2 linked regions of the Homo sapiens genome follow. The gene in region 2 interacts genetically with the main gene of each other region. Each region holds a gene or a part of one and is shown on either strand. Other genes may lie near its edges.

Region 1 (3,728 bases), on a different chromosome or scaffold from region 2:
TCACGGTGTGAGCCAGGATGGTCTCGATCTCCAGACCTCGTGATCCACCCACCTCGGTCTCCCAAAGTGCTGGATTACAGCCATGAGCCACCGCGCCCAGCCGAAATTTATTTTTTGATATGTGTACTTTCTTACTTTACTGGGACACAATCACAGATGACCTATGTGGCTGATCTTAGGTCCACACCCTCCCAGAAGTCAGGTTTTAACTTTAGCCTCTAGTTCTGGAAGTTTCTGGCCTATCATAGATCACAGATCTATCATAGTTCGTATTTTTAGGCTGTCCAGTGGCCAAAGGACCCAAGCAAACAAAGACACTACCATTAGCAAGATATTCCAGAAGCCCAGAGCTCACCCTCCATTAGCTTGAACACAAAGGCCAAAACTCCCTTTGTTCAATTATTTACTATACAATAAGGACTTGGCATTTTCTACAAGGTGAAAGTCTAAAGGAAATCTGTAAACTCCAATCCAAGTCCTGTTCAGACAATATCACTTTCAACTCCCTGTCTCCAAATCTATATTCAAACACCAGTTCAGCTATCTGTTCATTGAGAACCATTTGAAAGTCCTGGAATCCTGCCATATTCCCAGGATGTCTAGGTTTTATTCCAAGTTAAATCCAGACTGCCACAAGGCTGAAATTAACTTGTGTTGGTCCCTGTGTTTACTGTTTGCTTAGTCTATTCCGTAACAGTATATAAGGAGTCCTTCAAGAAACAGCCACAGGAAACCTGCATCTGAATTTATGAGAAGGCTGCTATTCTGGACACCATCCACCACATCAACTCTAGGAAGAACCACTGAAGAAATTTCCTGAGACCAAAGTGCCATGAAATAATGGCAACCCCCAGGAAGTAATCTGTTTTATCTTCAAAAACAGGACATACCATGTAAATTATGATTTTCTTGTGACATTGGCTGTCAGAGATATTAGATGCAAGCTGACAGCTAATATAATCCACAGGATCCTCCAGCCATGCATGGTGTCACAAAATTCATAATTTAGTGTTAATGCTATGAACATTATATTCCTTATCCTACTATTTTGCATGATATTGAGTTTAAAAACTAAGCTTACTTCTCTCCAGATCCTGCTTTTTGAAATTTATACTTTTTATATTAGTGAAATTGATGTTTATAGGCTTCTACAAATCTATTATGGAACAAAGGAAAGAATAAAACAAACCAAAAGTCAGTTACCTGGGCCTGGATCATTTTCTTCTGTTCTTGGAAGACAGCATTCAACTGGGATGGTCTGTCTTTGTATCTTCTGGCCTTCTCTTCAGAAGTCTCAGTTTTCAATCAAGTGTGCCCCAAGAAATGGTGAACCCCAAATCCACTTCCTCCCTCTTCAGGTTATGTTTTTTGCTCCTGAGGAGTCAGAACCTGTGGGTTGAAGAGCAAATTCAATGTAAGTGGTACATTTTTTCCAGGCCCAGATACTGTCACTGCTGCTAGGCACTCATCTTAAAGCAATGCCCCCAATATAGTTAACTATATACCTTTGTTTGGAGCCCCAGCGGATTTTATACCTGTGGCCAATAATGTCTAGGATTCTTAATGTGGTGGAGGTATGCCTTTCCTCTGTGACGTTTCCGTGGAAGGACTGTGAAGGCAGGTAGGAAATGAGACCCACCATAGCACCAGCCTCAGGAGATGGTGAACTCTTAGGCAGATTAGTTTTAGAAAAGAGACAATCAGCAAGGAGAGGACCTGGTCTTTGTTTTCCTTTAAATCATGTGTGCTCCCACACCTCTTCAAAAGTCTTTGTACATACACCCTGTGAAGACATGTACTTCAGTTTGAAAGCCAATGTACTGGGCAAATCATAAGCATTGTCATAAAAACAGTACTGACAATATTTTAGGAGGTTTTAAATACATAAAAAGCTAAAATACACAATAATTTACTGGATAATTAGGTGGTGAATAAAGTTGACGTGCTCTAAGGTTTCTGTAGAATGGAAAAGTGCCAATTAGCAGAAGAATATGACAAAGGTTGCACACTACATGTAATCTCTAGTTACAATTAACACTAGTAAGTCCAGGCACAGTGGCTCACGCCTGTAATCCCAGCACTTTGGGATGCCGAGGCGGGTGGATCACCTGACATCAGGAGTCCGAGACCGGCCTAGCCAACATGGTGAAACCCCATCTCTATAAAAATACAGTTATTCCAGAAGCTGAGGCAGAAGAATTGCTTGAATCCGGGAGATGGAGGTTGCAGTGAGACAAGCCTGTGCCATTGTACTCCAGTCTGGTCAAAAAGAGCGAAACCTCGTCTTAAAAAAAAAAAAAAAAAAAAAAACTAGTAATTGTTTTAAAGTACGTAAGTTCCATGCCAACAAAAGGGGGAAATGTAATAACAAGAAATTCATCCAAAAGAAGAGAATCAAAAACAGAGCAAAAAGAGCAAATACAATGCATTTAGATAGCTGTTTTAAAATAAAATGTACTAAGAAAATTACATTACATTAAGTATTTTATGCTAAGTAAAAACAGAGCATGGATCCCAGTTAATTACATTAAATATAAATGCCTCAAAACTGTCAGAATGGATTAAAAATTAAAATCCAATAACATCTGGGGTTTATTTTATTTTATTTTAATTTTTGAGATGGAGTCTCACTCTGTCGCCCAGGCTGGAGTGCAATGGTGTGATCTCGGCCTCCCGGGTTCAAGCAATTCTCTGCCTTAGCCTCCCGAGTAGCTGAGTTTACAGGCACCTGCTGCAGGGAGCCGAAGGCTCGTGGCCCGTGGGACGTGACCAACTCAGCATTCCACTGGAGGCTACAGATCAAACAGCAAACTGTTTATCATGAATGCAGGATGTCAGCAAACTCATGACTGCTCCGGCTGATGAAGGTTTGCTGGAGGCAATCACTCCCTGGCGCCGTTATCTACTGCGACATCTAGAGAATGCAGTCTTGCAAGACTACTCTGGACCCCTGGCGCCGTTATCTACTGCGACATCTAGAGAATGCAGTCTTGCAAGACTACTCTGGACCCCTGGCGCCGTTATCTACTGCGACATCTAGAGAATGCAGTCTTGCAAGACTACTCTGGACCGAGCAGCTGACCCCTTCTTCCACCTCCCCTTCTCACTGTCTCTTTTGCCTAATAAATATGAAGGGCTGTGTAAAGCTCAGGGCCCTTGTCCCCTAGAGGCAAAGCGCCCCCGATCCCTTCTTCCAAATACACTCTTTTGTCTCATCTTTATTCCCGTGTTCACCCCACTTTGTTTAGTCCACCTAGGTCCGTGCAGGTTACAAATGGCAACCAGAACAGGGACTCCAAGCACGCCCAACTAGCAGCATCCAAACATGGGACTTCAAGGACGTGAATGAAGAAGGTCTGCTGGAGCAGAGGAACTGAAATTGACAAGGCGAAAGGGGACCCTGGGAAGAGTCTGCCGGCAGCAGATATAAGGTCAGTGCCCTAAAGAGGTACTGGGAGCAGTGCTTTAAAGAAGTACTGGGAAGTTTTCTGACTCAGGGTAACAAGGGAAAGAATTTGTCTATTGAAGAAAAACATTATGTGCAGTTGCTTAAAGTTCTGTTGAGACAGTCTGCAGCTCAGGTTAATTCGCAGACACTAACCTCCTGCAGAAGCCACAAAAGGTTATTACACATAACCCATCGTTTCCACAGGCAGGCACTCTTGATGTGGAAAATTGGGATACAGCAGGAGAAGGATTAAAACAGGCTCATCAAAAAGGTCTTAAAG
Region 2 (3,500 bases):
CCCTGCTCCACCTCACCACCTCACTCTAGAACATTCCCTGGTTCCTGCCACTCCATGCCCCAGGATGGGAGTCAGGGACTTGAACCCTAGTATGCTGAGTCTGGGGTGTTCCCAGACGCCCGTCTGCCCACATCAGCAACGCTGGCTCCTGCAGGGGTGCTGGAATCTCTGGGAGTTGGAGGCTGTGCCTCAAGCAGAACCAAGCAATCAGGGAGTGCTTCCCAACTTATAACCACTCAAATGGTCCAGCCTCTTATTGGCAAGTGCAGAGCAGAGACTCCAAGGGATGTTATGCCCACCTCTGAGGGTCACCTAGCAGGAGACCTGGGCCCCACTGGCCCACTCCACCCCTCATCCAGCAAATAAACCCTGAGCACTGGCTAGGCCAAGCCCTGGGCAGAAGGCACAGGGGCCCTCTTCTTGGCCATCCCAACACCACTGGGCCCTGACCACATCTTCCAGGGCCAAGGGCTCCAGCCTGGGCACCTCCAAGCAGGCCTCAGGCAGACGCCTCCCTCCCTGCTCCGCCTGCGCTGACTGTCCAGGGTCCTGCATCCAGGTCTCGGCCCGTCCAGGACTGAGCCACACACAGCGAGGCTCACACATGATAAAGGCAGGAGCCGGGCCGACCCTGGACAGAGAGCGGGCTAGTGGTGCCAAGCCCTCAGAACCAGGGGCAGCAGGAGGAGCAATGCCCAACTCAGGTCCAATTTCTGCAAAACATTTTGTTCAACTCCCTTCCAGCTCTGATGGGCAAAGATAACAGAATCTCTCTGAACTATCCAGAAAGATCACTGCCTTTTATGGACAAGAACACTGGTCCCAAAGAGGTCGAAACCAGGCTCCACAGCCACCGAGGCACTCAGGCCCCAAGGCAGGGTTCTCATGACCAATACCCGCCCCGCCACCTGCCTTGTGAGGGTCTGCAGGGGACGTGCACCCCACCTTCACCTCCTGACTCACTGGACTCCCAACTGAGGCCAGCGGGGAGCATGTGCCCAGCGTGGGGCAGCCAGGTGGCGGAGTTGTCATTGTTCTGTACTTGTGGTAGGAGCTGGGCATGGCAGAGGCCCTTCCCAGCAGGACTCCTGCCCTCTCCCACCCAACCCCAACCCAGGACAGGCCTTACAGGCAGAAGTTTCAGCCCACCCGGGGGCTCCATTCAGGTCACTGGGACCTCCTTCAGAGAGCCCCCCACTGCCTGGAGCCTGTGTGACCTCATGAAGTGACAGAGCATCAGCCTCTCATTGTACAATGGGCAGGCAGCCTGTCCTGTTGTCACAGGGACCCACCAGGATGAGGTTGGCACAGCCCTGCACACCCTGGCAGCCACCTTCCCCGAGCCCCGGCTTCCCTGCGTGTAACACAGCTCTCACTCCGGCTCCAGGAGCCGCTCTGGCCCTGAGGAGGTGGCTAGAGCCAAATTCAACACAGATCAACCTGTGTTCATCCCCCTAGCCCTCTGGGGTCTTCCAGCCTGGCTTCCTCCCTGGCCGGGAAAACAGCAAGGGAGGAGAGGCTGTGGGCTCCAGGCCCCCAGCCAGCCCGGCTACCCTCCCACAGGAGTACCTGGCTCAAGGGCAGGTCCCAGAGAGCACAGCCCAGGCTGTTTCCTTCCCTGGATCGTTCATCCACTGTGTCTGGAACCCCAGCGGGCTCAGTGCACTCAGGACCCGCACGTCAGCTTGTCGGCTCCACACATGCAGCCCCTCGGGTTATGCGTGGTCTTGTCCCACGTGAGAAGGGAACACTGAGACTCAGAAGGTGACATGACCAAGCTGGCGTGGCCAAGCTAGCCCTTCCCGAGGCCACCGTCTCCCCACCCTGTAGCCCCCATCCCCACCTCATCTCTTCCTGGCCAAATCATCAGCGGTGCCCTTTGTCCCCCGTGTGCCTGTGGTGCAGCTGCTCCACTTGGCGCCAGCTCCTCGGGGCAGGGCTCGGGACTGTCCTGTTCCCAGTGGGCCAGAGCAGGCACACAGTAGGTGCTCCAGGGCTGTGGGCTCGGTGAGAGAGGAATGCTGGACGGGCTGCCCGGGGCCAGATTCCATACCACCTGATGACCTGGAGCTGCTCACCCCACTGGCACCATCACCCAAATGACCAGCACCCTCCCCTGCCCATTTACTGACCTTTCCCCAAAAAGGAGGCATGGCCAGCGTTCAAATTCCTGCTCTCCTCCCAGCAGTGACCCTGGCACGTCACTTCTCCCCTAGGGTCCTTCCCTGGCTCTAGGGCAGGACGGTAATATGAACACTTACCCGCCAGAGGTCTCAATCCTCTAGGATGAAGGGAGTTAAAATGCATCAAGTTTTACGTATGAGTCCATCACGGTCCTGACCAATGGCACCCACAGCCCAGATAATGGGGCCGGTTCTGGCTGTACCGCAATCACCAGGCACTGCCAAGGAGCCCCACCTTCACATGGCACGGGGTTACAGTCACGGCAGGGGTGGGGGTTACACATCAGGTTAGGCCTGCTTCCTCTGAGCCAGTGGCAGGGTTGGCGGGGGCAGGTGGCCAGGACAGGGTGGGAGAGGGGAGGCAGCCCCATCTGTCCCCAGCCAGGGTGGCCCTTGGCAGGCAACAGCAATGACTGTGCTGCATTTCCACTCCTTCTAGAAGCATAAGCCCTGACATGAGGGCACCCCTACATCTGGGGAAGACACCAGGAGAGGAGCCGGGGGGCATGGGAGCACCCCTACATCCCGGGAAGATGCCAGGAGAGGAGCCAGGGGACATCCCCACTGGGTAGATGAACGGGGGCTGCAGGAGGGAGGGGTGGCCCACGCACCTACCCCGGGTAGATGAACGGGGGCTGCAGGAGGGAGGGGTGGCCCACGCACCTTCCCCAGGTAGATGAACGGGGGCTGCAGGAGGGAGGGGTGGCCCATGCACCTATCCTGGGTAGATGAACGGGGGCTGCAGGAGGGAGGGGTGGCCCACGCACCTAAGGGGAAGTGGGGGTGCACTGGGCAATGGCCCCCAGTTCCCCTCCAGGAGGAAGGTAAACCTGAGGGCCCACTCTCAGGACCCCAGCTGAGCCCTGAGCCATGTGGTCATCCCTGACCCTCAGTTCCGCTTCCAAACCAGGAGGCTGCCACTAAAGCAGCCCAAGACTGAGTGGCACGTGCCTGGCGGGAAGCGATGCCCCACCTAGGGGTCCTTAGGGCCACACCCTTGGCTGGGAGGAACAGCCTGTCCTTATTTTCTGAACTGTCTTTTGTACAACAGCCTTGGCGCAGCTCAAAGGATAAGTGAGGTTCTCAGGGTCCTGACCTGAGGCGCCCCAAGGAGGGGAGACACGCGCACACTCTCTGCCAGGTGAACGCCTACTGGGCCATCGGAACCCACAGCTCGTGCCCCACCCACACTGGCACGGGCTGTGTCCACGTAGCCCTGATCCCGCTCGGCTAAAGAGCGCAGCTCTCAGCTGCCGTAGGTAGCTGCCAGGACCCTCCACCCTCTGCTCAGGCTCCTGGGTGGAAGGAAGCACCCGT

The links. Genes that interact genetically often act in the same process or in processes that back each other up.
Region 1: changes in PTP4A3 (region 2) and ZNF350 together harm fitness less than expected from each alone (positive genetic interaction), as found in Homo sapiens cells (one study listed by BioGRID).

The regions. Positions count from the first base shown.
Region 1 is NC_000019.10:51,973,143-51,976,870, forward strand, and holds part of ZNF350 (zinc finger protein 350), read right to left. Parts: intron 3,432-3,728; exon of another isoform or gene 3,249-3,431; intron 1,784-3,248; exon of another isoform or gene 1,536-1,783; intron 1,390-1,535; 5' UTR 1,219-1,389; coding exon 1,204-1,218; intron 1-1,203. UniProt on the Homo sapiens protein: Transcriptional repressor. Binds to a specific sequence, 5'-GGGxxxCAGxxxTTT-3', within GADD45 intron 3.
Region 2 is NC_000008.11:141,395,021-141,398,520, reverse strand, and holds part of PTP4A3 (protein tyrosine phosphatase type IVA 3), read right to left. Parts: intron 1-3,500. UniProt on the Homo sapiens protein: Protein tyrosine phosphatase which stimulates progression from G1 into S phase during mitosis. Enhances cell proliferation, cell motility and invasive activity, and promotes cancer metastasis.